Homo sapiens: one gene and its partners. The protein of the gene in region 7 interacts with the protein of the main gene of each other region in a biochemical or structural test. Each region holds a gene or a part of one and is shown on either strand. Other genes may lie near its edges. The genes, in order: USP28, GSPT1, USP21, STAM, TRIM63, MDC1 and USP15.

Region 1 (4,136 bases), on a different chromosome or scaffold from region 7:
AATATTTATTCATCCATGTATGCATAGAAATGCTTATTTGGATAGAACATACCAAATGTCAAGAATGATTATCTCTAAGGAGTGACATGAGTCTGGGGATAGGAGTGGGGCTGCTCTTTCACTTTTTATATTCTACTTAAATTTTTTAATTTTTGTAAAAATAGAATCTTTTTATGTATATTATGAAATGTAAAGTTTTAATTTTTAAAAAGTGGTTCGGCAGGCTATTTAATCAAATAAAATAATAGTGCTTGGTATTAGATTTAAAAATTACAGGGAGGTGTATGTGTGTAATCTCCTCTGAAATTGAGATATCTGTTCCCTTGTTGGGCTTATTTTTCCATAAGTATGGACCTTAGGGAAAAGAGATTTCCTCCATTATTTTGTGCATGTGAGAGAGTGAGGAGGAGGGAGTGAGGTTTTTTTGTTTGTTTGTTTGTTTGTTTTTTTGAGATGGAGTCTCACTCTGTCGCCAGGCTGGAGTACAGTGGCATGATCTCAGCTCACTGCAACCTCCGCCTTCTGGGTTCAAGCGATTCTCCTGCCTCAGCCTCCCAAGTAGCTGGGACTACAGGCGTGCCACCATGCCCAGCTGAGTTTTGTATTTTTAGTAGAGATGGGGTTTCACCATGTTGGCCAGGGTGGTCTCGATCTCTTGACCTGGTAATTTGCCCTCCTTAGCCTCCCAAAGTGCTGGGATTACAGGCGTGAGCCACCGTACCCGGCAGGAGTGAGAGTTTTTTTTTAAGTCAAAGTAAAGGAAGTTTATATTCTTCAGCTTTGGTGTAAAAGAGAAACCTAACTACAATTAGAAGCTTATTTTATATTCCTGCTGGTTTGTTGACCTGCAGTTTTACTCTGACAATAGAGAAATTAACATTTACTTGATATGCTTTATTCTCTGTTAGTTTACAGAAAAGACGTAAAGAACTTAAGATTTATATTTTGTAGATGAGATATTAATACTTTTTTCCTTGGGTATTTAGCTAAAGTAGTAGAGCTAGGATTGTTTGACTTGAAGCCCTTCTCTCAGAACTCTCCAAGGTGTCACCTAGTGTGTATTCCTGTGAGTTGTATGTTCAGCTGATGCTTCCTTTTTCTTCCTTCTGTGTATTTTGTTCCAGGAAGGATAGTGTCACTTTAGTTGGCTTCATCTTGTAAACTCTGTAGTTGATTCCTTGATTCTTCCAGGCCTAGTCTTCTCTTTTCCATTTTCCTTCTCTTCCCATCCTCATGGGAAGGAATAATCAGTGATCAGAGAACATGAGCTAAAGACTGGCCGATCTGGCTTTGGATTCATTTTCATTACCTTCCAGCTTGGTGAACTTGGGCATGTTGCTTAATTTATTTAAACCTTAGGCTCACAGTTGGTAAAATAGGGATAGAAAAGTATCTACCTCACAGGCCAGTTGTGGTACGTGAGATGATAGAGAAAAAGGTTGGCTCTGTACCTTTATAGAGTTAATGCTCACTGAATACCTGTACTTTTTCATATAGCATCTTGCTTTCCAAAGTACATAATTTAGGCCAAGGTATCTTTTGGAAATTATCATATGAGCATGATTTTTGTCTTCCTCAGTACAAGTACAGAAAGCTCTTCTCAGGATGTTGAAAGTACCTTTTCTTCTCCTGAAGATTCTTTACCCAAGTCTAAACCACTGACATCTTCTCGGTCTTCCATGGAAATGCCTTCACAGCCAGCTCCACGAACAGTCACAGATGAGGAGATAAATTTTGTTAAGACCTGTCTTCAGAGATGGAGGAGTGAGATTGAACAAGATATACAAGGTTGGCTCTTTTAAAATTTGTCAGTTACTCTTTGCTTTTTCTGTTTTTTGACTATTTGGAGGTTAAGCACCTCGGTACACTTCCTGACATTACTGTACATGCTACAGAATTTCCCCCCCGCCGAGATGGAGTCTCACTCTATCACCCAGGCTGGAGTGCAGTGGTGCAATCTCAGCTCACTGAAACCTCCGCCTTCCGGGTTCAGGCGATTTTCATGGCTCAGCCTCCCAAGTAGCTGGGATTATAGGCATGTACCACCACACCTGGCTGATTTTTTTTTTTTTTTTAGTAGAGATGGGGTTTCACCATGTTGGTCAGGCTGGTCTTAAACTCCTGACCAAAACTGATCTGCCTGCCTTGGCCTCCCAAAGTGCTGGGATTATAGGTGTGAGCCACTACGTCTGGCCCATGCTTTTGAATTTTGACATGGTAATTGTGACTTCTTTTGCACTTTTAGTGCCCTGTAAACTTGGCTCACACACCCCCATTATACAGATATGGAAAGATCTCCCCCTCAAAATTTCTGGGAAATGATCACCTTTGCTGAGATTTTTCTGCATCAACTGATTTCTGTTTCTGTGGTAGATTATCTGAACTCCAGCTTAAGTTGACCCAGATTTAGCATTTAGCTTTTCTGGACTTCTACTCTTCAGTCTTTTCTATAGGAAGCATGCTTTACTGAAGGTTAATGAGGTATTTGAGCAGTATGCACAATGTAAAATTGGATTATTCAGCATTGTATTCTTAAAAAGCCCTTTGACCTCATTGCCCATATTGCTCAGACTAACCTTACCCCCCTTCCTGTCTCCTTTTGTCTAGGGAACAAAAAGATGATGGAAAATACAGATTCTTCCCAGATTCCTATTCAGAGAAATTTAGCCTTACCCTTTGTTCTGCTTTCTCATTTCAGATCCTGTCTGAGGCATACATTTTACAGCCAAGTGACCCATTAAGATCTTTTCCTAAACAGCTTACTCTTTAAGAAATTTTGGCAATTATAAAAAATAATGTTTTAAAACCTTAATGTAATTATATTGAACTAAAAGCTTTCATAACCTAAAGTACTAGCTGCTTTAAAACTGTATATTGCTTCGTGGTTCATAGAGGGAAGCTGAAATCATTAGGACCCTAGCAATATTCTTTGCTTAGTTAAAGTAGCCTGTGTGACATAGAATGAGATCATTTTAGTGAAGCTTTTGTTTTTCTTTTTCCAAACAGATTTAAAGACTTGTATTGCAAGTACTACTCAGACTATTGAACAGATGTACTGCGATCCTCTCCTTCGTCAGGTAGAATGAAAATTGATGGGAAAGTAGTCAAGGCATGTGCTAATGGTAGATACAAAAATCAAATTTGATAGTTTTCTTTTAAACCCAATGGGAATCCCCCTAAGATAAAAGAATAAACTTAAGATATAAATTGATGTTGTTCTGTTTCTTTATTTTAGGCTAAAGAAAGCAATATACCTTTTACCAAAAACAGGACCTAACACATACTTGTTTGAATTCTGCCACATGGAATTTTTTCATATTGTAGAAAGGTTTGCTGTCAGATACTAATAAAAATTACTTACAAAATGGTACTTTAAGTAGTGCAGTGGGAAAAACTGAACTAGAGAACAGTTATCCTTTCTTTCCCAAAGTTCCATGATTCTTCAAGATCTTTAATTTAACAACATGCGTTCAAGCTTTATTTCTGTAATAATAAATTCCAAAAGAGAGTTAGGACAGAAATTCTTAACTATCCACAGAAGTGTTTGTTAGAATAAATTCTGGGAATGGAGGGGTAAAGAGCCTCCAGGAGTGTCTCTGAACCTATTCTGGTTAGGGGCATGGACTTTCAGTGGCTTCTGTATGAATGACTGGAATGGGCAGAATGGCTTGGAGGAGGGGAGCCCTGTTTCTAGAATGGCATTGAGGCACAGTCCCATTGCTTAACAGGAATGCACCATGTAAAACGCAGGCTTCCCCATTTTTTCTTTTGTGTTAATTCAAAAATCTTCACCAGTAATTAAAATAGGTCAAAGTAAGTGTAAATTTAATTTGATTCTGTGACTGACTTTCATCTCTTTTACTAGTATTTAGTTAGCATTTAAGCATTGCTCTATTTTCTCTATATTGAAAATACACAAATGTGCTTTTCAAATGTTGTAACAAACAAGTATGTCATTAAAAGGGTCTTCACTCCAGATAGATAAGTGGTCACTTAACTCTAAGAAGCATGTGGCTGAATTAAATATGTTAACTTAAATTTTGTTGCCAAATAAAATAGGCATGGAACAAAATAGCTGCTAACCTTTGTAGGTCCCAAATATGCTAAGCATTTTCAGCATGAGTGGTCAAGGTGAT
Region 2 (4,136 bases), on a different chromosome or scaffold from region 7:
GAGGTTGCAGTGAGCCAAGATCGCACCACTGCACTCCAGCCTGGGCAACAAGAGCAAAACTCTGTCTCAAAATAAAAAAATAACAATGCTATGCAGCCATCATCACTATCTAATTCCAGACCATTTCATTACACCAAAAGGAAATGATGTATTCATTAAATAGTTGATAGACTTTTAAAGCTTAGTTCAATAATTTTTAAGTAGTGCATAATTCCGATATTTGGAGATTGATAGGTAATAGAAGACAGGTTTATTAAATCCTTCATAGAATTCCATAATAATAAAAATTATATCCATAAAACTGAAATCCAAATATTAAATTGTGTTTTCGATTTTGAAAAGGTAAAAAAAGGCAAATGCTAGTGTATACAGTGTTCTAGTTGGAAATGATTAGAATGTGATATTTAAAAGGTGACACGTTAATACTTTAATTGGCAGTTATACTTCTAGGATATGATTTTTGCTGATCATATCTAGGCTAAGATTTTATGTCATACAAACATAAGTGTTTACAGTCAAATCTTGCAACTCTTTATTGAGCAGACAGACATTCAGATCATTTTATGTTGCGTAATGCAGTGAATGTGTCAGAAAACCTCCAGTCTTGTTTTCTTTTAAAGCACAACGTGGAAGTTCTTGGAATACTTTCCGATGATGTAGAGACTGATACCGTAGCCCCAGGTGAAAACCTCAAAATCAGACTGAAAGGAATTGAAGAAGAGGAGATTCTTCCAGGGTTTATACTTTGTGATCCTAATAATCTTTGTCATTCTGGACGCACATTTGATGCCCAGGTAAACAAATTATTGTTGTTGTCATAGTGGGTTTTAATGTCTAAATGAAATTAGAATATCAGTGCCTTTTGTCCTGATTATTTGTGACATGCCAGTTAACCCATCTTAGTGTAGAGAAGGGGAATGGAAATATTATAAGCCACTTATATATCATAACCACAATAGGCACCTCATACAAGGTCTTCAAGCTGGTACAAGTGCTTACTGGATAAGGAGTATTCTTTGTAAGTTCCTTTTTATGTTTGATCTCCTGATGATACATTCTACAGTATCTAATATTCACTTTGACCAGAGCACAGTTACTGTGGAAGTCATGGTTTATGTGCTCATTGACAGCACATAGCTTTCCAGACAAGAAATCACACAGGTTTCCCTGTTATTAACAATCTAACCTCCCTGGGAGAATGACAGAGTAAGTGACTGGTGTGAATAACAGAATTTTTTAAAGTTCTTTTCTAAGGTATGACAACTAATCAAGTTAGATTTTGATGCCAGATGTAAGGTTGTTTACTTTACTGGACCTTGGATATTGAGAAATGGATAAAGCTGGATAAGTTTACATCTAGGTAGCTTCTGAGCGGTAAAAATTAGCTTAGTTCCTTGGGGAATATAAGGAAAGTCTTCCCAGATAAGAAAGTTGGCCTGCTGTCTTTTGTTTTGTTTGGAGATGGGGTCTTGCTCTGTCACCCAGGCTGGAGTGCAGTGGCGCGATCTTGGCTCACTGCAACCTCCACCTCCGGGATTCAAGCGATTGTCCTGCCTCAGCCTCCTGAGTAGCTGGGATTTAGGCGCCCACCACCACGCCTGGCTGATTGTTTTGTATTTTTAGTAGAGACAGGGTTTCACCATGTTGTCCAGGCTGGTCCTGAACTCCTGGCCTCAGGTGATCCCCCCGGCCCCCCTGCCGCCTCGGCCTCCCAAAGTGCTGAGATTACAGGCGTGAACCACTGCGCCCAGCCAGCCTGCCGTATTTTGAAAGTTGACCAGGGACTTGCCAAGAAGATAAATACAGGATAAGATACTGAAATTCATGCTTTGAGTTCAAGCAGCCTGACCCATCCTGTGAACAAAATTAGTAAGACAAACCTATCACCTCTAACACAAAAATCACTTAAGTTGATGTCCTAGTGAGATGGTAACACTAATTCTTGGGATTTATATGGCGCTTGAGAACATTGAATTCTTATTTACCCTAAGGCTAAAGATAAGAATGTGTGTGTTTGTTTGACAGATAGTGATTATAGAGCACAAATCCATCATCTGCCCAGGCTATAATGCGGTGCTGCATATTCATACCTGTATTGAGGAGGTGGAAATAACAGTGAGTTTAAGATAATTGGTTTATTTCTGTTTTAATACTGTTTTATCTTCATAATTTCTAATCAGCAACAGTGATGCACTTTTATTTCTACACCTGTTCTTAAAGATTATTTTATTTGGCATTATTCTGATTTTCTCATACTCTTTTCTTGGTTAGGCCTTAATCTGCTTGGTAGACAAAAAATCAGGAGAAAAAAGTAAGACCCGACCCCGTTTTGTCAAACAAGATCAAGTATGCATTGCTCGCTTAAGGACAGCAGGAACCATCTGCCTTGAGACCTTTAAAGACTTCCCTCAGATGGGTCGTTTCACCTTAAGAGATGAGGGTAAGAGCTTTTAAACTGACGTCTAGTAGTATATCCAGGATACCTAGCTTTGGTCATCTTCATCATCTCAGTACAGTACACATTGCAACAGGTTCACAGAAAACTTCGATTCACATTCTTATTCGTATGAGTGTTTTATGAGTTGAATGTATTGAACAGAATTGACCACGTGCTTTAGTAGTAATGCCAAATCTAGTAATGCTCTACGTGAAGAATCTTAATTTTGATGTTTTGTGAGTAGTGGATTTGGAGGGCTATTTTGTTTACTAAGATATTTCTATGATGTAATCCTTTGTAATATGTCTAGCGATTAAAAGGAACATAGAGATTGATTTTTTTTTTTACACCTAATTTTTCAGAGGTCTAATCTTTGTGACCTTTTGTGTGCATCCATTTCTGCCTACCTCTGGGTGACGCAGAACAACTAACATTCCCATCTTGGGGTCATGAAGTTCTTTGGCATAAAAACAAAATGATTGTTATGAAACGTTTCCTTATGAGCTTTTAATATTCCTGTCCTTTTCCTTTCCCTTTCCCTTTCCCTTTCCTCTTCCCTTTCCTTTCCTTTTTTTGAGATGGAGTCTCGATCTGTCACCCAGGCTGGAGTGCAGTGGCACCATCTTGGCTCACTGCAAGCTCCACCTCCCAGGTTCACGCCATTCTCCTGCCTCAGCCTCCCGAGTAGCTGGGACTATAGGTGCTGCCACCATGCCTGGCTAATTTTTTGTATTTTTGTAGAGACGGGGTTTCACCACGTTAGCCAGGATGGTCTTGATCTCCTGACCTCGTGATCCGCCCGCCTTGGCCTCCCAAAGTGCTGGGATTACAGGCGTGAGCCACCGTGCCCGGCCCAGCTGTTAATATTTCTAACTTAGATAACCATTTTAAGACTATAGAAGACTTTACATAAAACTTTATAGTTCCATTGAAATACAGAATAGTCATTTCACATGTTCATTCCAATTCCATTTAGCAAAAACTACTTTGTATCTACAAAGTGTCAGGAACTGTGCTAAGCCCTGGTGATGAATACAGTTCCTGAACTTTACATTGGATGAAATTGTATAAAGACAGTGTTTATTTTACTTTAAAGGCCCAGAACTCTTCTGGTTGATAGTAAAACTGGTTATTGGGTTTATCTTATTAATATAACAAAATGATAGTTTTAGTTTACCACTCAGAACCTGATAAAATCAGGAAGACAGAAGAAAAGCAATTAATGTAGCAGGAATTCTTAACCCTAGAATTATTTTTTCCTAAAAGCTAACTTGGCTTTAAAAAAAAAAAAAAAAAAAAAAAAAAAAAAGCTAACTTGGCTTTTAGGTTTTCCACAAGACCCAATGGGTTTTGTATCCTTTCAGTCCACAGGATTACTACCAGAAGGACGTGTTCACTGCACTGTAGTCAGTGGTGATTGCTGTGCCTTTTCACAGTTACTTAAGGATAGGTTTTGGGATTTTTTTTTTTAGCAGCTTTATTGAGATACAATTTCCATAATATGAAATTGACCTGTTTTAAGTATGTAATTCAATGAATTTTAGTATGTTTACAGAATTGTACAACCATCACCATATACTAATATTAGAACATTTAGAACACCTAAAAAGAAACCTTACACCTGTTCATAATCACCCCTTATTCCCACCTCCACCCCAGGCAACCATTTTTCAATTTGTCTTTTATAGACACTCCATAA
Region 3 (4,673 bases), on a different chromosome or scaffold from region 7:
GCAGTACAAGAAAAGCAGCTAAGAATAAAAGGAATAACAGTGATGTCCCTTAAGCATGTTCCCCCAGAATCTGTCTCCAGGAAGGAGCTTCTAATGGAACAAGAAGCATTGACTGGTAGTAATCTCACAGGATTTTCCTTGTATTGCAGCTGGGTCCATGGCTGGCAGTGGAAATCCCTGATCTGATTCAGAAGGGCGTCATCCAACACAAAGAGAAATGCAACCAATGAAGAATCAAGCCACTGAGGCAGGGCAGAGGGACCTTTGATAGGCTACGATACTATTTTCCTGTGCATCACACTTAACTCATCTAACTGCTTCCCCGGACACCCTCCACCTCTAGTTGTTACTAAGTAGCTGCAGTAGGCATTGCTGGGGAAGAAACAAACACACACCAAACAGTACTGCTACTTAGTTTCTAAGGCTGCACAGGGAAGGGAAAGACTGGGCTTTGGACAATCTAGAGGTAATTTATATCCGCCCCCAGGTGGAGCAACATGCGATTCTGGAGGCACGGGGGTAACTGAAAGTGAGTACATATAGTCTTTCTGGTTTCTGGAGATAACCCATCAATAAAAGCTGCTTCCTCTGGTAGCCTGTGGTTCTCATTGGGAGCTGTTAACAGAGGGCAAGTGGGCTGAAACCTGAGGCACATGAACAGCTACGCCGGGTTGGGTTGGGAAAGAGTCGGAAATAGGGGATGCTCTGGTCAGGAGTGGGAATGAAATGTTGACTGTTCCCCCTGCTGCTCAGATCTACCTTTGTCCTTTAGTGGTGAGCCATGCTTTGCCCTACCGTGTTAGCCTGCAAGAAGTGGTTTTGCCGGACCAGCACTTCCCGCCCTCCAGGGATCTTCCCAGCCCTCTGTGAAGTGCTAGATGCTTCTCCACTGGTCTGCGGGCTGGACCCAGGCCTGCAGTTTGCCATACTTGCGCCCCTGCTGTTTGGGAAGGATCTGTGCTGTAAGCCTCGCGGCCATACTACGACTGTCAGATCTCCATCCCTATGGGCTATAGGATGGGGCGACGGCACCCTATACCTCAGGGACTTGCTTTGGAGTCATGGATTAAAGACCTCTCTGGGCAGCGTTGAGAACCAGCGACCCTAAACTTGGCTGCGTTTCCATGGTGTCGATCGCGGAGCCGTGGGGGCGGGCTCACGCAAGCGCCAAGGGACCGGTGGGAGGAGTTCGGGTGTGGATGCGCAGGCGCTTTGAGAGACGGTGAAGCCGGTGGCCGGTGGCCGGGCGGGACCAACAAAGATGGCGGCGGCCCCTGCGGCGGGAGCGATCTGGGCAACGGCTGCGGCTAAAGCTGCAGCCGGGCCCACGGGGGGGCTGCACGGGGGTAGTAGGGGGTGGCCCTGAACTGGGGCCTGGCCCTGGCTGGCCTCTCCCGCCGCCTCACTGGGGGACAGGTACGGGCCGGGGCGTTATGGCATGGCGGGGTGTGGGGGGGCGCAGAGGGAAGACTGCTCCAGACCCGAGAGGACACTCTCCACAAAGGCGCGTGGGGCCCGGCGGGGCCTGGGAGAACTGGGCTGGAGGGACAGCATCCCTGGACCGCGGGGAATACGCCGCCGGATTCCGTAGCCAATCAGCGGTCTCGGCCTTTCTGCCCTCGAGGGGGGCGGACCCGGCTAAAGCCCTGCTGTGGTGGGAGAAGTGCAGAGATTAAGGGTCAAGGAGTTGTTCGTCCTCCATCCCCGACTACTGCTTTCTGAACCTCGACACCATGTCGGAGGTCGGAGGTGGGGGAGGGAATGGATCGTAAGTCACCCATATAGTCTGCTTCATTTGCAGCCCAGAGAGGCAGGGATTCGAGGATGGAGGGCTGTCTTTTGGGCTGTTATTCTTGCATCTACACTACCATTTGGCTAGGGTCTTAAGTGACCCGAGGCACATCCTACTTTACTAGCCGGGTATGGGGTCCCATGTTACGTTAGAGCCGAGATAGGAGTTATCACTGGCTTTTCAGTAAAGATGTGTTCTGCAGGGAGGGGTCGGGAGTATAGAAAGGGTCAAAGCCATGGGCTGCTTATCTTTCATTCATTTGTTTACCCAATAGATACTAAGTATTTACTTTGTACCAAACACGATGCCAGGTACTGGGGATACGATGGCTGATTCGATAGATCTGGTTCCTGCCCTCAGTGCGTATACTGCTCCCCACTTTCGTTGATGTGGTAGTGGTGATGACTGAGCCAACCACCTAATGTGGAAATGAGAGGACAGCAAGATTGTGGGTATGGAATGGGGCAAAGCAATAAGGGAAAATTAGTGTGGCAGGGTTCAGTACAGCAGCCTGGGTTCCCATTTCCCCCCATATTCAAATGCTGACACTCTCTTCTCCTCCCAGGTCCAGCCTGTGGTGTCCACAATGCCCCAGGCCTCTGAGCACCGCCTGGGCCGTACCCGAGAGCCACCTGTTAATATCCAGCCCCGAGTGGGATCCAAGCTACCATTTGCCCCCAGGGCCCGCAGCAAGGAGCGCAGAAACCCAGCCTCTGGGCCAAACCCCATGTTACGACCTCTGCCTCCCCGGCCAGGTCTGCCTGATGAACGGCTCAAGAAACTGGAGCTGGGACGGGGACGGACCTCAGGCCCTCGTCCCAGAGGCCCCCTTCGAGCAGATCATGGGGTTCCCCTGCCTGGCTCACCACCCCCAACAGTGGCTTTGCCTCTCCCATCTCGGACCAACTTAGCCCGTTCCAAGTCTGTGAGCAGTGGGGACTTGCGTCCAATGGGGATTGCCTTGGGAGGGCACCGTGGCACCGGAGAGCTTGGGGCTGCACTGAGCCGCTTGGCCCTCCGGCCTGAGCCACCCACTTTGAGACGTAGCACTTCTCTCCGCCGCCTAGGGGGCTTTCCTGGACCCCCTACCCTGTTCAGCATACGGACAGAGCCCCCTGCTTCCCATGGCTCCTTCCACATGATATCCGCCCGGTCCTCTGAGCCTTTCTACTCTGATGACAAGATGGTGAGGACTTGCCACACACATGGCCTTCATGCCCATGTTCCTCTGTGCTTTCCTGCCATCCTCTGCCTTTTCTGTCCCCCATTTCCCTGAAGTTCCTTTCTCAGCCCTTCATTACAGCAGTTTGGACATGCCTCTCCCTTGCTTAAATACCCTTGAGCCTCCTAGACCCTTTTTTGGGTTGTTGGTGACTCTTCAGCATGGTGTGCCATTTCGGTCCCCAGGGGATTACCCCAACTATTTAGAATTCTTCTTTGGGTCCCCAGGCCCTTCCTTTCCCTTGCTTGCACCTTCTCTACTGGGACTCTGCCTAGGCCTAATTAATCTCTGGAGCTAAAGAGAGGCAGGCACAGAACATCTTAGCAAACGTGGTTGCACATTTTCTGAGCTAAGTAAGCTAGGCTGATTGCAATTGGAGCCAGCAGGAGAAGGGCAAGAAGGGGCCACGGGGGCAGGAGGGGGTTTTGGGGGCAGAAAGGTGGGAGTGGTGAGCAGCTGGGCAACCATGCCGGTGCTGGGGGAGTTGCCCCAGGAGCTGCAACGTCAGCTAGCTGAGCAGAGGAGTAAGTGGGCAACAGGTGGGACAGCCATGGCTGAGTCCGTGGTACATTCAGCTGTGATGGGCTTACTGCTCATGACCAGTGAGGTAGGGAGACTAGAATACCTAGTGAGGGGAATAGGGTAGAGTTTGGGGATGAAACATGCATGGGATGGGGGAGGCAGTGGGCAGCATGCTGTTGAAAGGTTAAAGTGCCAGGTAGGATATATAGGAACTTGCCGATTGTACTCTGACCTTCCAGGCTCATCACACACTCCTTCTGGGCTCTGGTCATGTTGGCCTTCGAAACCTGGGAAACACGGTGAGAGCTATTCTCCTATCTTTCCTCTCTAAAAGGAATGTGAAATGGTGCTGGGGGTGGGGAAAACCCACGAGCTTGGGGAAGGCATGTGGAAGGAGAGCTCTGAAGCTCTTCTAAGGCTTCCTGGGCAGTGGTCTGGAGAGATAACAGCAGTGTCCCTACTGCTCCCCAGTGCTTCCTGAATGCTGTGCTGCAGTGTCTGAGCAGCACTCGACCTCTTCGGGACTTCTGTCTGAGAAGGGACTTCCGGCAAGAGGTGCCTGGAGGAGGCCGAGCCCAAGAGCTCACTGAAGGTGGGGCAACAACTCCTGCTCCCTCTGTTCAAGTCCCTTTTTCCCCAACCACTTGCAGGTCCATCTGCCACTGGTGGTGGCCCCCAACCCTTAAATCTGGCAGTTGTATCTACTTTTCCCAGTGCCTACTTTCCTAAAGGTTATTTTCTACCCTCTGAGCCACCTTTTGCTTGCCTCTTCCAGACATTAACCTTTGTTTGCCTTCCCCACTCCCATCCCAACAGCCTTTGCAGATGTGATTGGTGCCCTCTGGCACCCTGACTCCTGCGAAGCTGTGAATCCTACTCGATTCCGAGCTGTCTTCCAGAAATATGTTCCCTCCTTCTCTGGATACAGGTGGGAGAGCTGGAGGCTATGGGATTTCTCTCTGGCCATGTCTGGGGGTAGGGCCAAGCAAGGGCCCTGGCAGCATTGTTCTGAGCCTTGAGATGTTCTTCATCCAGGAAGTGGGGACCAATATCTGGGCAGGGAATAGTGTCTGTGGACTAGGAGAGGAGTCAGTTGCCCATACTCTTTGTCTGGCTGTAGCCAGCAGGATGCCCAAG
Region 4 (4,136 bases), on a different chromosome or scaffold from region 7:
AGAAGTTACGACATTCTAGCTGGCAACAGAAGTTTCTAGGTAGCACAGGCACAACTTCTAGAAACCTTTCCAGCAGTGTTAGGATTGCCCAGGAATGCTCCTGCACTGCCCTCTCTTGCACTACTCATCCTCAAAGAGTTACGTGTTAGAGATGCTTGGGGATTTTCAAGCATTATTCGGTTGTCAGATCTAGTATCCCGAAGTGACCTTAAGGGGGATGATGGCAAGGCCCACATGTCAGAAAACAGGGCATTCCCTAGTGGGTTCTGTATCTTAGAAAAAAGTGTTAAGTGTAGCTTGCACTCTTGCAGGATTTTTTTTTAAGTTGAAATCTGGTGGAAATGAATACCCTTCTGGAAAATAAACAGCTGTTCTTAGAGTAGCATGTTGCTTTACAACTAGATACAAAGGGGCTAGAAGGTAGGAATTGTTGAGAAGACACTAGGGTTCCTGACTTAATAGGACCCTGCAGCTATTTTAGTATTAGCCGGAACTGCCACTTTTCCCCTGCTAGTCCTCTGTTTGACTATGTCACATGCTGCTCTACCTTCCTTGTTACTAGAGATTACTTGAGACTCATTCTTCAAGGTCGGGGCCTTGGGAAATTATCCTTGTGAATGAGATAACCTGTTGGTAGGTGCTTTAACAGTGAAGTTCTGTAGCGCTGTGGTACCCTGCTGCTGTTCTCTGTGTGTGACTCTGCTTCTGCATTCGGGATGTGAAATCCCTGGCATAGGCCCAACCCTACCCATAGAGTGTAGCTATTAATGTCACCTCTCAAGGAACACATGTTTATTTCAACAGGTGTCTTTTGAAGAACATTTTCTTGAAATATTTAGCCCTCTCGTCCTGGCTCATTCCTGCATATTCTTTAGTTGTTAGCTTAGCTGCATTTTTACTGGGACATCTTCCTTGCTTTTCCACCTCTCAGCACTGTTCCTCCTGTGTGCTGTCAGAGGACTGTGTGTGTACTTCCGTTTCCTGGCTGGTAGTTGCCTTTTTACTTGTTTGTATCCCCACTGAAGACAGTATCTTGAGAGCTGGCACTGTCTTTCACCTCTATAGCCATCCTATGTAGCACACAGTTTTACACTGGCTAGGAACTCAGTAAATATTTTATGAATACATGTTTTAGTGTTAATGACAATTTCAAGTGCTATATTAGACCAGTTAGGTGTATTTTTTAAAAATTCCTTGCAAAGGCTTCACAAAGGCTTAGAGGCCATTTAAATATCTATATATAAAGGTACAATATGTAATATCTGTTTATCAATATATAAAAACAGATGTGTGTTTGTGTGTTTCAACGGGGAAATGAGGAATTGCTGGTAGAGCAAATGTAGGATGAGGAAATTGGAAGGAGCGAGGGCCAGGGTTAGAAATTTCCTTACTAGAGGTGTCCTGCGTATTTGACTCGAGCTTTCTAGCGGCAAATCAAGGTCAGTGAGGATTGTTGTTGTTTTTGGTAGGCAGGTTTTTTAGCACTCCTCAGTTTATATATATCTGAGAGGCTATCTCTTGTTACATAAAATTTTGGTGTTAAAGCTCACTGTTTTTCAGACTTCTGTCATCCTAGGACAGTCTTATTGTTAGTTGGGGAAGGTGTCACTGATGACGGTTTTCTAAAGCTACCTGTAGCGATGGTAGTATTATAAGGTGATAATAAGTGACAATTACTGTTAGTATTTTGAGACCACTGAAGCTTATGTATTTATTTGTCTCTGATTTTAGTTTACTACAGTCAGCATGTGCCAGGCACTGTGTTAGACACCTGAGAGTCTTCTTTAGCTTCAAGGTGCTTACTGAGTAGTAGGGGCAAACACATAAAAAAATATAATTTTATACAACATGATTTATAAATAAAGAAGATATATGCCTTGTACCTTAGGAGCCTCAGGGTTTGAGGAAGTTTTCCAAGAGGGTTATTCTTAGCCAGTAGAAAAAAAGTGAGGAAGATGTTCTGTCACGTCAGAGATGTGGTAGCCTGGAATGGCATGGTACCCATGGAGTGAGCAAAGATGGGAGGTGTGAAAGGCGTGGTATGTATCGGCATTCCAGCAGCACACTTACCAAGGGTTGAAAGCGTGTAGGGGAGCAGCGAGAGACATACTTGAAGACACTGCCAAGGTCGAAGAATGCTTGTTCTAGATACCATCTTAGGGATAATGAAAAAGTTCAGAAAGGGCTTTAAATGGCAGTAGCGTAGATGGATTCATAGGGGCAAGATTAGAAGCTGGGAGACCATGGATATTAGGCAAGAAATTATGAGTATTTGTTGGCAAGATACAGTGCTATTAATTGGAAAGAGTTATTTAGGAGATTAGCAAATAATTACACATTGGGTGACATGGTTGGGAGACAGCTCAGTGCAGAGATAAGAGAAAGAAGTATTGGTGAATTGCATGGTTTTGCCCCAGGCAACTGGGTGGACGGTGGAACTGTAAATTGAGAATGATTACAATAATGCTAACATTTAAGGGGTATTTAGTATGTTCCAAGCACTGTGCTGTATGCTTTACACAAAGTAACTTATTCCTCATAATAACCTGTGAAGTCGGTAAACTATTACCCCCATTTTATAGATGGGGAAGCTGAGACCTGGAGACAAAACGGAAGTCCCACTTAGCTAAGATTCTAAACCAGACATTCTGACTCCAGAACCCAGCGCATAGACTCTATATTACGGCAATATTATAGCCCATACCATTGTCAATAATAGTATGAAATTTGACATCTCCTAATCAACTTTATATCTCACACATATGGAGTGATGACAAATAATGCCTTAGGTCACCACATTAGTTGGAGAAATGTAGCATTAAATTACCGTCTCTTATAATAAATTACCATCAAATAATGAATTTGTGCCAAGTACAAGAGCACTGAATTTCCCAACAATAGATTTATAAATAACAATTGGAGGAAAGTTTAGAAGTAGGCAGTATTTTGAAAATTTGGCAGTTGCTTTTTATATTGCTTGTTTTACATTTTTAATACAAATGTAGGGGGAATTCTCAGCATCTTAGTACTTCTCTTCACATAGCTAACCTAGTGTCTTACAGTGGAAACGCATGTATTCCGTTGGAAACAGGAAGACAGGAAGTAGAGGCAGTGGATAAAGACAACCCTTTGAAGAATTTTTTTCTTTCTTTTTTTAATGGGAGCAGTGCACAAGTGCAGGGACTTGAGATGGGAGTACTGGCAGCGGAGCGGTGGGAGCGGTAGGGAAGCTCAGTACGTGAGGGGTGCAGCTGCAGAGAGTTGATCAGTGTGGTGTTGGAGCGTGTGCTTCCGTATTTTCAAGGAAATAAAAGAAATGAGGTTATGAGGCCTTCCCTTCCACTAGTCCTTTGGGACCGTTCTTGTCAAGAACCCTGGTGATGCCCATACTGCTAGACTCCCGGTCAGTTCACCATTCTCCTCCTCCTCCATTTGACAGTTCGTGATTCCCTCCTCTTTTCTGAAATGCTTTCTTCACTTGCTGGTGACCATTCTCTTTTCCCTTCTGCCTCACCGCCACTTCTTCTCAGCCTCATTTGCCTCTTGCCTCTTTATCTTCTGGACTTCAAGGTCCAGTGCACAGTAGATGGACTGCCTTTTTCTCTGTTTGCAGCCGCTCCCCAGGGGACCTCATGAAGCCCGGTGATTCTGAATGCCGTGGATCTGCCGAGGATTCCCAGATGCGTATTTCTCCTCCGTACTTCCCCACAGGACAGCAGGCTTGAATAGCTGATTGCCTATGCAGGACAACAGGCTTGAATAGCTGACTGCCTATGCATTCTCTTTGCTTGCCAGTTTTTTGGACATCAAACTTGACAGATCCAAGATTATTACTTTGATCTTCCCCACACCCCTCCCACCCCCGAGTCTACTATGGTCCCATCATAGTATTCTGAAAATCAGTGAATGGCCACTCTACCAGTTATTTCTACCAGTTTTTAGGTTCTAAACCTCAGGCATTCTGGACTCTTCTGTTCATTATCATATTTTGAAGGCATTATCTTCAAAATCTATCTAGACTCTGACCCTTTCTCCCATCTCCACCATTACTGCCGTGGCTCTTCTGCTGGTCGGCTCTCTCCTGGTGGATCGTAATAACCTGCAGTCAGCTATCCTGGTCCAGAGGGAGCCCGTTA
Region 5 (4,051 bases), on a different chromosome or scaffold from region 7:
ATACAGTAGGCACCTCAGATTGTTGTGGAATGAATGAAGGAACGAAGGAATGGAGGTAGATGAATTTCTTACCTTCTTCCTTCCCTTCTGTGGACTCTTCCTCTTCCTGATCTTCTTCTTCAATGAATTCTTCCTCTTCCTCATCTGTGACAAAAAAACATTTGTGTTAGGATGGGGCCGGTTCCTTGAGGAGCTACTTGAAGAGGAACCAGGCAAGAGAGAGCACGGTCTAAACCCCTTCCTGTGCCCAGTCGGGTCAAACGGCCACACAGCGGCGGCAGTGGTCTGGGAGGGGATGGGCTTGCCAGACCCACGCTGCACAGAGGCCCTGCTCCTGCAATCCCCCGCACTCCGTCCCAGGGAGCTGGGCTCAAGTCACTTCCTTGCTCCAGCAACAGCAGCTTCTATCACCTGCTCGCCTGTGACCAGAGAGGGGACTCTGAGGAAGCGCACTCTGTGCTTCTGCACATCTCTCGGGTAGGCAGATAAACATTGCCTGAGGAGGAAAAACCTCCTCGATCCTCAGGGATCAGAGTCCTTGTCTTGAAGGAAGCTACTTAGCCTATGAGATCTGCTTGTTCAGCAGCCACTGTCCCATTTTCCTCATTCCTTAGCCTGTGGAGGGGAGGGGTGGACATGATGGGGAAGCACTTCTGGAGCCACCTCTGCTCCCTGAAGCTGAGCACCAGAGGGACAGTGACTGAGCTGCAACTCATGTCCCCACTTTTTTATCCTGAGATGTCACCGTCAAGCTTTAACAGGGAACATCTCCCTTCCCCGCTCCTCTCCCAAGCTACCTCCTTAACCTTTTGGGGCCCTGAAGGGGTCACCACAGAATCAGAACATTTGTCAAGAGTATCTTCAGGCCAGGCTTGGTCGCTCACACCTGTAATCCCAGCACTTTGGGAGGCTGAGGCGGTCAGATCACCTGAGGTCAGGAGTTCAAGACCTGCCTGGCCAACATGGTAAAACCCTGTCTCTACTAAAAATACAAAAAATTAGCTGGGTGTGGTGGCATGCACCTGTAATCCCAGCTACTTGGGAGGCTGAGGCAGGAGAATCTCTTGAACCCAGGAGGCAAACGTTGCAGTGAGCTGAGATCACACCATTGCACTCCAACCTGGGCGACAAGAGCAAAACTCCGTCTCAAAAAAAAAAAAAAAAAATAGTATCTCCAAAATGACAACCAAAATTCCAGCCAAGTAACTGATATCAGAGTATAACCCAGGGAGTTCTGTTGTTTAATCATTGTCACAATGACTACATTTAATAGCAGTTGCTGAGTACTTACTATGTGCCAAGTAGTGTGCTCAGTGTTGAATCTGCATCGTCTTATAAAATCCTCACAAGAGTTTTGCAAGCCAAATGGCCCTCAGTAGAATCTGCACAGGCTACTTGCCAGCTGTGTGGCCTTGAACAAGTGGCTTACCCTCTCTGAGCTTTAAGTTCCCTCAACTACAAAATAGAGATGGTAACAGAACCTATCCCATGAAGTTGTGTTAAATGATAAAACTTATGTTAAGGGCTTAGCGCCTAGGACATACAGAATATTCAGTAACTGGTGACTGTTGGTACTCTCCTCATTTTACTTGTGGAGAAACTGAGGCTCAGGGAGATTAGGAAGGCCAGTGCAGGACTTCACAATGTTATGTTCACACCGTATGACCCACTCTTGAATATCTATTTCTTTCTTTTTTTTTTTTTTTTGAGATGGAGTTTCACTCCTGTTGCCCAGGCTGGAGTGCAATGGCGTGATCACAGCTCACTGCAACCTCCTCCTCCCGGATTCAAGCAATTCTGCTGCTTCAGCCTCCCGAGTTAGCTGGGATTACAGGCATGCACCACCATGCCCAGCTAATTTTGTATTTTTAGTAGAGACGGGGTTTCTCCGTGTTGGTCAGGCTGGTCTGGAACTCCTGACCTCAGGTGATCCACCTGCCTTGGACCCCCAAAGTGCTGAGATTACAGACGTGAGTCACTGTGCCTGGCTGACCCACTCTTGAATATCTTAGCTTAGGGAAGCTGACAGTGGAGCAGCTCACTACAGCAGTGGATGTCCCCAAGGCCATTGGTGTCTCTGCTTTGGGATGTATTTTGTCCTTACCTATGAATGGGGTATATCTGGGGCTCTGAAAACAGACTTAGCACCAGCTACTGAAGGTTTGTAGGAGAGCGACACAGGAGGTGCCAAGAAGCTCTTCTCTTTCTCACGCCAGCCATTTACAGTTCTTCCTTGTTCCTTCATCATCCCCTTGTCCCCCAACCTCAGCTGGTCATTGGAGCACCACCTCTCAGACCAACGCAACAGTCAGCAATGTGGGATCTGCCCTCTCTTTCTCTGTTGCCTTTTAGCTGTGTTTCCCTTTTAGCTGTGTGACCTTTAGCAAATTAACATATTTGCTTCCATTCAGTTTCTTCATTTCCTTTGTTATTTTCACCCTTATTATTGTTACGGTTGCATTGTTACAATTATTATAGGCACTCTATGGAAGAGTAATTATAAACAGAAATGAGGACATGATGTTGATCAATTAAGGTGCCTGGGTATCATAGGTGATAGCATTAAGAAACTGAAGCTAAGACTACCTTTAGGCAATAACTAGTACATCTTTAGGGCTCTACAGGACCTTTCTGCATTGATATCTGATTTTTTGCAACAGCACCATGAGTTGGTCATTATTAGAGGGCTCACTTCTAACCTGACTTTTTAAATTAGAAAATAAAACTCAGGCAGAAGGGGGCTTGCCAAAGGTCACACAGATAAACAAATGACAGAACCAGGATTTAAACTCAGGACTGTCTGATTCCAGAGGGCATATTATTTCTACTGCCCCAAGAGGCCTCCCTGCCATGGATCCATATGTAATTTATGAAGCAGGAATTCTGCACCAGGCACTGTGCTAGGCTCTGGGCTCATCTAGAAATCGACTATATGAATTTTTTTTTTTTTTTTTTTGAGATGGAGTTTGGCTGGCTCTTTTGCCCAGGCTGGAGTGCAGTGGCACAATCTCGGCTCACTGCAACCTCTACCTCCTGGATTCAAGTGATTCTCCTGCCTCAGCTTCCCAAGTAGCTGGAATTACAGGCACATGCCATCACGCCTGGCTAATTTTTGTATTTTTAGTAGAGATGAGGTTTCACCACGTTGGTCAGGCTGGTCTCAAACTCCTGACCTCAAGTGATCCGCCCACCTTGGCCTCCCAAAGTGCTGGGATTACAGGCATGAGCCACCACAGCCGGCCAGAAGTTGGCTATATGAGTTTGATTGATATTTGGGGATCTTTATTAGTGTATCTGCCTCCCCATCGGGCTCAGTTGGAGGGATGCTGGTTTCCAGGGGTCAGGCAGGCAAATAGACAAGTGGCATCACCACCTCCTTTACCTGTCCCAAAGTCAATGGCTCTCAGGGCGTCTGCTATGTGCTCTAAATCCAAAGTAAAGAAGTCCATGTTCTCAAAGCCCTGCTCTGTCTTCCCCAGCTGGCAGCCCTTGGAAGCTTCCACAATGCTGCAGGGGAGACAGAAAGAGAGGCAGGATGAGGTCTCTGGGGCTCAGTGCAGGGAAGAGAGGGCACATGCTTTGCCACGCCCAGGCCTTCTACCCAGAGGCTCCCCTGGAGGGATGGAGTATTTCCTCTCCAACCTCAAGCACAAGGAGTGGTCCAAAAAGTCAGGGATGCAAAGGGTCAGGGAAGCCAGCCTAGAGTGAGACCCTCCCAGCAGGCCTAATGCCCAGGATGAGGCTTCCTGGACAGAGGTCCTGGTGGGAACTAGGTGCTTGGATCATAGCCTCTAGGAAGACACTGACCTTTTGATGAGTTGCTTGGCAGTCTGCAGGGGGAGAGAGAACAAAGGATTAGGACCGCAGAAGAGGTAACCGCAGGAAATCAGCAAAACTAGTGAACTAGGTGTTGTAGGTAGATATTTGGTGCCATTCCCTAGCCCAGTTGTGACCTGCTCCCCACCCCAAACTGAGCAGAATCTGGAACTTTTCCCTCTGTCTGTGGTCTGTACAGGTCTTGGTCATCACCCTAGGACCCACTGTCTTGACA
Region 6 (4,136 bases), on a different chromosome or scaffold from region 7:
TTTCTGTCTATGATCTCTCCTCCATTAGACTGGGATCTACCTGGGAAGCTACCTTTTTCCCACAGACCTGTCTCCATAATGCTACTATAGTGTTCTCCACACGTGGATGATGGTAAGGAAAAGGATGGCTGGGGCAAAGAAAGAAGAAACACGAAGGGTCTTTCTTTTGAGTCAGGTAGGAGATACAACTTAGGAAACAGATATGGAAAACAACGGGTGCCGAGGATAAAGGAATAGAAGCCAATCAAGGCGTGACAAAAATGGAAGAAAACTGAATAATGAGAAAGGAATAGATTAAAGTGAGGCTAGGTGAAAGAGCATTGGAGAAGATATAGAGATGACTTGTGGAATAGGAGGTAGAAAAAGTAGCTCTCACCCTGGAAACCTTCTCAGCAGCTCTGATCCTGGAAGCCTTCTCAGCAGGTGGCATCTTGCAATTCAGGAGGCCTAGACAGAAAGTAAACACAAAGGTGGCTGAGTTCCAAGCAGCTGGTTGCCCAGGGGTTGATTATCACGAGGCCTGTGTATCACCTTGGGTTCCCCTCTGCCTTCACTTACCTTTCTGATGCCTCCTGGGGCTCACTGGGGATCCCCTTCCACCTGACTGGCTCCCAGAAGGTACGGGGGCTGAGGTAGGTCCCGGAAGGTCCCCCGCCCCCACCCCAGGCTCTGGTGTTGGGCTGGAGGCCTGCCCTTTCTGGTCCTGGCTCCCTCCCTCTGGCTCCCCTCTCTGTGTATCTCTCTCCAGGATCACTTTGGGCACCTTCTCTTCTAACTCGGCTGGATCGCACTCTCTGTTTGCTACTGGTCTCTCTACTTCTCTCTCAAATGCTTTGCTTGGAAGGGTCTGCTTCTGTACTTGTTTCTCTTGTATTTCCTCAGATGTCTCAATTTCTACCTTCAAACTCTCCCTATCTCTTTCAGGACTTGCACTTTCCCCATTTTTGTCAGATTCTTGTCTCTGGGTGTCTCTAGCTAACAACTGTTTTTGTTCTCTGTCCTGTTTCCCCTTGGTTAATTCTTCCTCTCCTGTCACATCTGTCTGTCTTTCTGGTAGCAGTTTCTCAGTTTCTCTCTCCAATGGCCCTCTCTCAGGGCCCACCCTCTCTGCTGTTTCTTTTGGTATACCCATGACTTTATCCACAGTCTGCCTCCCTCTGCCTTGAATCCCCATTGGCTCTGTGTGAACTGGGCTCTCTGGATGTTGGTCTCCTGGTATTGCCCTAGGTGGAGACAGGCAAGGTCCATAGGCCTCAAGGTGCGTGTCAAAAGGCTGGGTCTCAGAGTCCTCAGACTCTCTCAGACAGAATGGCTGTGTAGCCAGGACCTCCCATGGTTCATCTAGGGTACCTGGAAGGGGAGGAAGGAAGAGAGAGAGAGGGAGAGGGAGAGAAAAGAGGGAGAGGAAGAGGGAAAGGGAAGTACAGGTTGACATAATAAATATGATGAGAAAGGATTTAGATAAACTCATGAATAATAAATCTGAACAGGTTATTAAAGGTAAGCTGGGAATAAGGGTGGTAGTTATAACATTTAACGTTTGTCTCAAAAAGGTCATAGCCTTAGGCGGGCATGGTGGCTCAGACATGTAATCCCAGGACTTTGGGAGGCCAAGACATGAGGATTGCTTGAGGCCAGGAGTTTGAGACTAGCCTGGACAACATGGCAAAACCCCATCTCTACAAAAAATACAAAAAAATTAGGTGTGGGGACGGGGACCTGTAGTCCTGTAGTCTCAGCTACCCGGGAGGCTGAGGTAGGAGAACTACTTGAACCCCAAAGGTCAAGACTGTAGTGAGCTGTGATCATACCACTGCACTTCAGCCTGAGTGACAGAGACTCTGTCTCAAAAAAAAAAAAAAAAAAAAACCCAAGAGAAAAAGAAAAACATCATAGCCTAATATGAGTTCCCTGAATAGTCTCTCATCATACCACTGCATTCCAGCCTGAGTGACAGAGACCCTGTCTCAAAAAAAGAAAGAAAGAAAGAAAGAAAGAAAAACATCATAGCCTAATAAGAGAGTTCCCTGAATAGTCTCTCTCTCTCAAGACAGTTTCACTCTGTCACCCAGGCTGGAGTGCAGTGGCATGATGTTGGCTCACTGCAACTCCCAACTGCTGGGCTCAGGAGATCCTCCCACCTCAGCCTCCCAAGTAGCTGGGACTACGGCATGTGCCAAAGTGCCCGGCTAATTTTTTGTATTTGTTGTAGAGATGGGGTTTGGTCTTGAACTCTTAGACTCAAGTGATCCACCCACATTGGTCTCCCAAAGTGCTGGGATTACAGGTGTGAGCCACCATGCTTGGCTGGAATTTCCTTCTTTTTAAAGGCTGAATAGTATTCCACTGTGTATATATACCACATTTTCTTTTTTCTTCATTGACACATAATAATTGTACATATTTATGGGGTACCTGTGCTATTTTGACTCATGCATACAATGTACAATGATAAAACCAAGATAATTGGGATATCCACTATCTCAAACATTTATCATTTCTTTGTCTTGGAAACATATCAAATCTCTTCTAGCTATTTTGAAATACACAATAAATTATTAACTATAGTAACACTACTGTGGAACTGAACACTAGAACTTATTCATTCAATCTGACTGGATTTTTGTATTCATTAACCAACCTCTTTATGCATTCTGTCCCTCTACCCTTCCTAGCCTTTGGTAACCACCATTCTACTCTCTACTTCCATGAGATCCATGTTTTTAGCTCCCACATGAGTGAGCATACAATATTTGCCTTTCTGTGCTGACTTATTTCACTTAACATAATGTCCTCAGGGTTCATCCATGTTGCTGCAGATGACAGGATTTCATTCTCTTCTGTTGCTGAATACTGTTCCACTGTGTATATATACACATTTTCTTTTTTTTTTAGATTGAGTCTTGCTCTGTCACCCAGTTTGGAGTGCAGTGGCATGACCTCAGCTCACTGCAACCTCTGCGTCTTAGGCAGCAATCCTCCCATCTTAGCCTCCCGAGTAGCTAAGACTACAGGTGCATGCCACCATGCCCAGCTAAATTTTGTATTTTGAGCCACTGCACCCAGCCTATATACACATTTTCTTTTTTTTTATTATTAGAGATGAAGTCTCACTCTGTTGCCCATGTTGGAGTGCAGTGGTGTGACCTTGGCTCACTGCAACCTCTGCCTCCGGGGTTCAAATGAGTCTCCTGCTTCAGTCTCCCGAGTAGCTGGGACTACAGGCACCTGCCACCATGCCCAGCTAATTTTTGTATTTTTAGTAGAGACAGGGTTTCACCATGTTGGCCAGGCTGGTCTCAAACTCCTGACCTCATGTGATCCACCCACTTCGGCTTCCCAAAGTGCTGGGATTACAGGCATGAGGCACTGTGCCCGGCCTACATTTTCTTTTCTTTCGTTTTTTTGAGACAGAGTTTCACTCTTGTTGCCCAGGCCAGAGTGCGATGGCACAATCTCAGCTCACTGCAACCTCTGCCTCCTGGGTTCAAGGGATTCTCCTGACTCAGTCTCCTGAGTAGCTGGGATTACAGGCATGCACCACCACACCCGGCTAATTTTGTATTTTTAGTAGAGACGGGGTTTCTCCATGTTGGTCAGGCTGGTCTCAAGCTCCCGATCTCAGGTGATCTGCCTGCCTTGGCCTCCCAAAGTGTTGGGATTAGAGGTGTGAGCCACTGTGCCCGACCCCGGCCTACATTTTCTTTATCCATTCATCTGTTGATGGACATTTAGTTTGATTTCATATCTGCCTATTGTGAACAGTGCTGCAATAGTGTGTGTGTGTTTTTTTTAAGAGACATTGGGGGTGGGGGTTGAGGGATGGGCTATTGCCCAGACTGGGCTCAACTGATCTTCCCATCCTGGCCTCCCATGTAACTGGGACTACAGGTGCTCACTACTATGCTGGGCTAATTTTTTCATTTTTGTGGAGACCAGGTCTCTCTCTGTTGCCCAGGCCAGTCCCTAAATATTTTCAACCTGCAGCTGGTTGAATTCACGGACGCAAACTCGCATACACAGAGGGCTCACTGTAATCAGAGTATGAAAGAAACATGTAGGAAGGCAAATCAAGAAAGAACGCAGGCCGGGCGCAGTGGCTTACGCCTGCAATTCCAGCATTTTGGGAGGCCGAG
Region 7 (4,136 bases):
GTCATGATTATTGACAAAAGTAAATTGAAACCATTGGGCATATTGGTAGGGAAATAAGGGGAAGATAGAGAACAACTGATAAAGGTTGATTATGTGCATTACGAGATTTGATCCTCAAAAGAAGGACCAAAATATATATATTTATATGACTTATAGATGAGGAATCTGAGAGAAATTAATTTGCTTGCTCATAGTTTACTACCAGCGGACATTTATTAAATGCTTAGTCTGTCGCAGCCACTATTTTAAATGCTTTACACTTACATAGCCTTTAAAGTACATGCTCTTATTACACTTCATTTTATCTTTGATGATTTCAGAGCTGGTTTAAATACCTGGTTTATAAAGATTTAAAGTACTAGATACTATCTAATACTAAGAATAGATCCTTAGTATTAAAAATGGTTTTATGCTGTCACTACTCGAATGTAATTCAAACAATATTTCATTAAACCATGGGAATTTCTCTTTTTTCTTAGTCCTTGTATAGAATTTTTCAACAATTACTAAATACTTTTTTTCTTCCCTGAGTAATGTCAGTCTAGCTTGTTTCTTTTAATTTCCTCACTTACCACTGTAATTCACATTCTGTGTCTCATATTCATTCCTCTGAAGCCACTTCGCCAGACTCGTTCTCCCATTTATCCTTTAAACAGGGGAATGTAGATCCTTTAGATTTTATCACCCAGTTTACACAAAAGTCACTATTCAAGAAATCTAGCATAAGCCTAGTAAGTAGCCTCAGTTTTGGATACAGATTAAAATTATTTGAGGGAAGGGTCAAAAATGGCTCCTTACAAAGAAGGAAATAAGTTCCAATTATAATATAAAACAGAAAACCCCTGTAGGATTAACCTGCATTTGATTATGTCTAGACTGCCTTTACTACTTCCATCACTAAGATTCTACATGGTTTCCTTATAGCTCTCCAAAAAGAAAAGAGTAATGATGCCTTTTTTTCCTCCAAGGAATGGAGAACTAAGAATGCTAACTGTCCCTTCCATTCTCCCTTTAGTTTTGAGAAGACCCAGATATTAGCGTGGTAATTCCCCACCATAAGAGAAAATCATTTAGCAGAAGTACCAGTAGCAAGGACTTCTTTGTGAAGGAAGTCAAAGATCTCACAAAGAAGTTCAAGGGTGGCTCTGAGGCCAGGGTATTCTAAGTTTAGAGCCAGTTAAATCAAGACCTGAGAACATTTAGAGACAAAGTTACTTAACTGAAAAGAGCATCAAGTTCCTTGTTCCAGGTAGAAAACACCTGGTAATCTGGATTGATTTCTGTTATTTACCCATATGTTTTTACAGCTTAACAAAGTTTAACAGGTTAGTCAAGAGATTTGCCTTTGATAAAAAGATGGGAAATTTATATTCATACATTTGAATGGATTTCAAGCTGAAGAACTTTTTAATTCTCAGGAGAGATGTAGCTAAGTATTTATATGTACCACATAGTTGTGGCTATGGTTTACAATAACTTATTACTCATTTACTATGTTAAGAGCATTTTAAAAGTTCTCTAGATACAGGTTCCATATATAATGTAATATATTTATTCCAAATATATTACATATATGAAATACATGGTAGTATTCTCATTTTACCAGTACAGAAACTGGGATAGTTAAATGTATATGGTCATAACACTTAGTCAGTGGTAGAGCAGGAGGTCTAACTTAAAGCTTGCATTTTAAATTCTAAGTGTACTGCCTGCCTATGTGTGATAGAGCCATACCCAGATTATGGAAGCAACTTTTTGAAAGACAAATACTTGAAAGTATTAAAATCAAGAAATGACAGCTTTGTAATACTTGTTAAACACATTTTCATTTGTTATTAATATCAAGAGCCTCTAGAATTTTGTGAGTCTTCTTGTTTTAGCCTTGTAGTCTCAGCAGTCTCATTTCTAATTAACATATCTCTGTTTTGATACAGATAGTGTCTCCCATTTCCTGCAAATTATTTGCTTTTTCCTGCTTTTGGGGCCTTTATGCCCCATTTCTGTTGTTTCAGATACTTCTTAAAAATTACTGACTTTCATTTCAAAACCTAGTTCAAAGTCAGTCTCTAAAACCACCTCTAATCTCATCCAAATTTGTGGCCCCTCCATTCTTTGCTTTTAAAATATATATGTATATATAAAACAGCTTTATTGTGATGCTATTCACATACCTTACAATTTGCCCACTTAAAGTGGACAGTTCACTGGGTTTTAGTATACTCGAAAGAGTTGTGCAGCCATGACCATAATCAATTTTGGAATCCAAAAAGGAACCTCATACCCATTAATAGTCACCTCCCATTTCTCTCCCAAACTCCTCTGTTCTAGGCAGCTACTAATCTATTTTCTGTCTTTATATATTTGCCTATTCTGGATATTTTATATAAATGGAATCGTATAGTATGTGCGATTTTTGCATCTTGCTTCTTTTACTTAGCATACATGTTTTCTAGGTTCATGCATGTTATAGCATATATCAATGTTTATTTTTACTGCTGAATGATACAGTCATGAGTCACTTAATGACAAGGATAACTTCTGAGAAATGTATGGTTAGGCAATTTTGTCGTTGTGTGAACATCTTAAGGGGGTACTTACACAAATCTAGATGGGATTGCCTACTACATACCTAGGATGTATTGCCTATTGCTCCTAGGCAAAAAAAACCTGTACAACATGTTACTGTAGTGCATACTGTAGTCAATTCTAATACAATGGTAAGTATATATATATGTGTGTGTGTATAAATATATATATGTGTGTGTGTGTATATATATATATCTAAACATAGAAAAGGTAGAGTAAAAATACAATATTATGATCTTTTTTGTTTTTAGAGACAGGGTCTGGCTCTGTCACCCAGACTGAAATGCAGTAGCCCAATATTGGCTCACATTGCCCTTGATCTCCTGGGCTCAAGCAATTCCACTGCCTCATCCTCCCAATTAGCTAGGACTACAGGCAAGCACCACTGTGTCTATTTTTTATTTTTATTTTTTTGTAGAAATGAGGATCTTGCTGTGTTGCCCAGGCTGGTCTTGAACTCCTGGCCTCAAGCACTCCTCCCACCTTAGTCTTCCAAAGTGTTGGGATTATAGGCATGAGCCACTGTGTCTAGCCAGACATAATGTGTCTGTTATTGACCTAAATGTTGTTATGTGGTATGTGACCATATTCCATTGTATAGATATAACACATTTGATATATCCATTTATCAATTGATAGACATTTGAATTTCCAATTTTTGCCTATTTTGAATAATCCTGCTATGAACATCCATTACAAGTTTTCATTTCTCGTGTATATACCTGTAAGTGGAATTGCTAGGTCCCTGTTTAACTTTTTAAGGAACTGCTAGACTGTTTTTCTAAGTGGCCGTAATTTTACATTGCCACCAGCAGTGTATGAGGGTTCCAGTTTTTTCACCTCGTCAGCACTTATGTTCTTTTTTTTAATATATAGCCATCTTAGTGGATATGAAGTAGTATCTCATTGTAGTTTTGATTTGCATTTTCTTGATAGGTAATGATGTTGAGTATCTTTTCACCTGCTTATTGGCCATTTGTATGTCTTTTGGATGTCTGTCCAGATTCTTTGCCCATTTAAAAAATTTGGTTATTTTGTCTTTTTATTATTGCATTGTAAAAGTTCTCTAGATACAGGTTCCTTATTAAATAGTTAATTTACAAATTTTTCTCCCATTCTGTGGATTTTCTTTTTACTTTCTTGGTAGTGTCCACTGAAACATGGAAGTTTTTATTTTATTGAAATTCAATTTGCCTGTTTTTTCCTTTGTCACTTTTGCTTTTGGTATCATGTCTAAGAAGGCTTGGCTTAACTCAAGGTCATGAGGATTTACTCATATATTTTCTTTTCCAAGTTTTGTAGTTCTGGCTCTTACATTTAAGTCTGTAATTCAATCGAGTTAATTTTTTGTGTATATGGTCAGGGGAGGAGTTCAATTTCATTCTTTTGCATGTGGTTATCCAGTTGTCCCAAAACTATTTGTCAAAAAGATCATTCTTTTCCCTGTGCAATTATCTTGGTACCCTGCTTGAAAATCAATTGACTGTAAAAGTGAGGGTTTATTTCTAGATTCTATATTTGATTGACATATACCAGTACCAGATTATAAC

What was found.
Region 1: of the proteins of USP15 (region 7) and USP28, one has a biochemical effect on the other in vitro, tested with the Homo sapiens proteins (one large-scale study listed by BioGRID).
Region 2: of the proteins of USP15 (region 7) and GSPT1, one has a biochemical effect on the other in vitro, tested with the Homo sapiens proteins (one study listed by BioGRID).
Region 3: of the proteins of USP15 (region 7) and USP21, one has a biochemical effect on the other in vitro, tested with the Homo sapiens proteins (one large-scale study listed by BioGRID).
Region 4: of the proteins of USP15 (region 7) and STAM, one has a biochemical effect on the other in vitro, tested with the Homo sapiens proteins (one large-scale study listed by BioGRID).
Region 5: of the proteins of USP15 (region 7) and TRIM63, one has a biochemical effect on the other in vitro, tested with the Homo sapiens proteins (one large-scale study listed by BioGRID).
Region 6: the proteins of USP15 (region 7) and MDC1 form a complex in vitro, tested with the Homo sapiens proteins (one study listed by BioGRID).

What each region holds. Positions count from the first base shown.
Region 1 is NC_000011.10:113,812,826-113,816,961, reverse strand, and holds part of USP28 (ubiquitin carboxyl-terminal hydrolase 28), read left to right. Parts: intron 1-1,579; coding exon 1,580-1,788; intron 1,789-3,006; coding exon 3,007-3,077; coding exon of another isoform or gene 3,078-3,086; exon of another isoform or gene 3,087-3,207; intron 3,208-4,136. UniProt on the Homo sapiens protein: Deubiquitinase involved in DNA damage response checkpoint and MYC proto-oncogene stability. Involved in DNA damage induced apoptosis by specifically deubiquitinating proteins of the DNA damage pathway such as CLSPN.
Region 2 is NC_000016.10:11,874,065-11,878,200, reverse strand, and holds part of GSPT1 (eukaryotic peptide chain release factor GTP-binding subunit ERF3A), read left to right. Parts: intron 1-620; coding exon 621-794; intron 795-2,025; coding exon 2,026-2,115; intron 2,116-2,271; coding exon 2,272-2,440; intron 2,441-4,136. UniProt on the Homo sapiens protein: GTPase component of the eRF1-eRF3-GTP ternary complex, a ternary complex that mediates translation termination in response to the termination codons UAA, UAG and UGA.
Region 3 is NC_000001.11:161,158,263-161,162,935, forward strand, and holds the start of USP21 (ubiquitin carboxyl-terminal hydrolase 21), read left to right. Parts: upstream 1-1,237; 5' UTR 1,238-1,416; exon of another isoform or gene 1,417-1,438; coding exon of another isoform or gene 1,439-1,504; exon of another isoform or gene 1,505-2,103; 5' UTR 2,104-2,244; exon of another isoform or gene 2,245-2,357; coding exon of another isoform or gene 2,358-2,378; coding exon 2,379-2,978; intron 2,979-3,775; coding exon 3,776-3,835; intron 3,836-4,007; coding exon 4,008-4,128; intron 4,129-4,352; coding exon 4,353-4,464; intron 4,465-4,656; coding exon 4,657-4,673. Other genes in the region: UFC1 (ubiquitin-fold modifier-conjugating enzyme 1), read left to right, coding at 150-230. UniProt on the Homo sapiens protein: Deubiquitinates histone H2A, a specific tag for epigenetic transcriptional repression, thereby acting as a coactivator.
Region 4 is NC_000010.11:17,709,656-17,713,791, forward strand, and holds part of STAM (signal transducing adapter molecule 1), read left to right. Parts: intron 1-3,613; coding exon of another isoform or gene 3,614-3,725; exon of another isoform or gene 3,726-4,136. UniProt on the Homo sapiens protein: Involved in intracellular signal transduction mediated by cytokines and growth factors. Upon IL-2 and GM-CSL stimulation, it plays a role in signaling leading to DNA synthesis and MYC induction. May also play a role in T-cell development.
Region 5 is NC_000001.11:26,053,821-26,057,871, forward strand, and holds part of TRIM63 (E3 ubiquitin-protein ligase TRIM63), read right to left. Parts: intron 3,831-4,051; coding exon 3,808-3,830; intron 3,508-3,807; coding exon 3,383-3,507; intron 145-3,382; coding exon 73-144; intron 1-72. UniProt on the Homo sapiens protein: E3 ubiquitin ligase. Mediates the ubiquitination and subsequent proteasomal degradation of CKM, GMEB1 and HIBADH.
Region 6 is NC_000006.12:30,707,008-30,711,143, forward strand, and holds part of MDC1 (mediator of DNA damage checkpoint protein 1), read right to left. Parts: intron 1,351-4,136; coding exon 559-1,350; intron 448-558; coding exon 377-447; intron 1-376. UniProt on the Homo sapiens protein: Histone reader protein required for checkpoint-mediated cell cycle arrest in response to DNA damage within both the S phase and G2/M phases of the cell cycle.
Region 7 is NC_000012.12:62,266,601-62,270,736, forward strand, and holds part of USP15 (ubiquitin carboxyl-terminal hydrolase 15), read left to right. Parts: intron 1-4,136. UniProt on the Homo sapiens protein: Hydrolase that removes conjugated ubiquitin from target proteins and regulates various pathways such as the TGF-beta receptor signaling, NF-kappa-B and RNF41/NRDP1-PRKN pathways.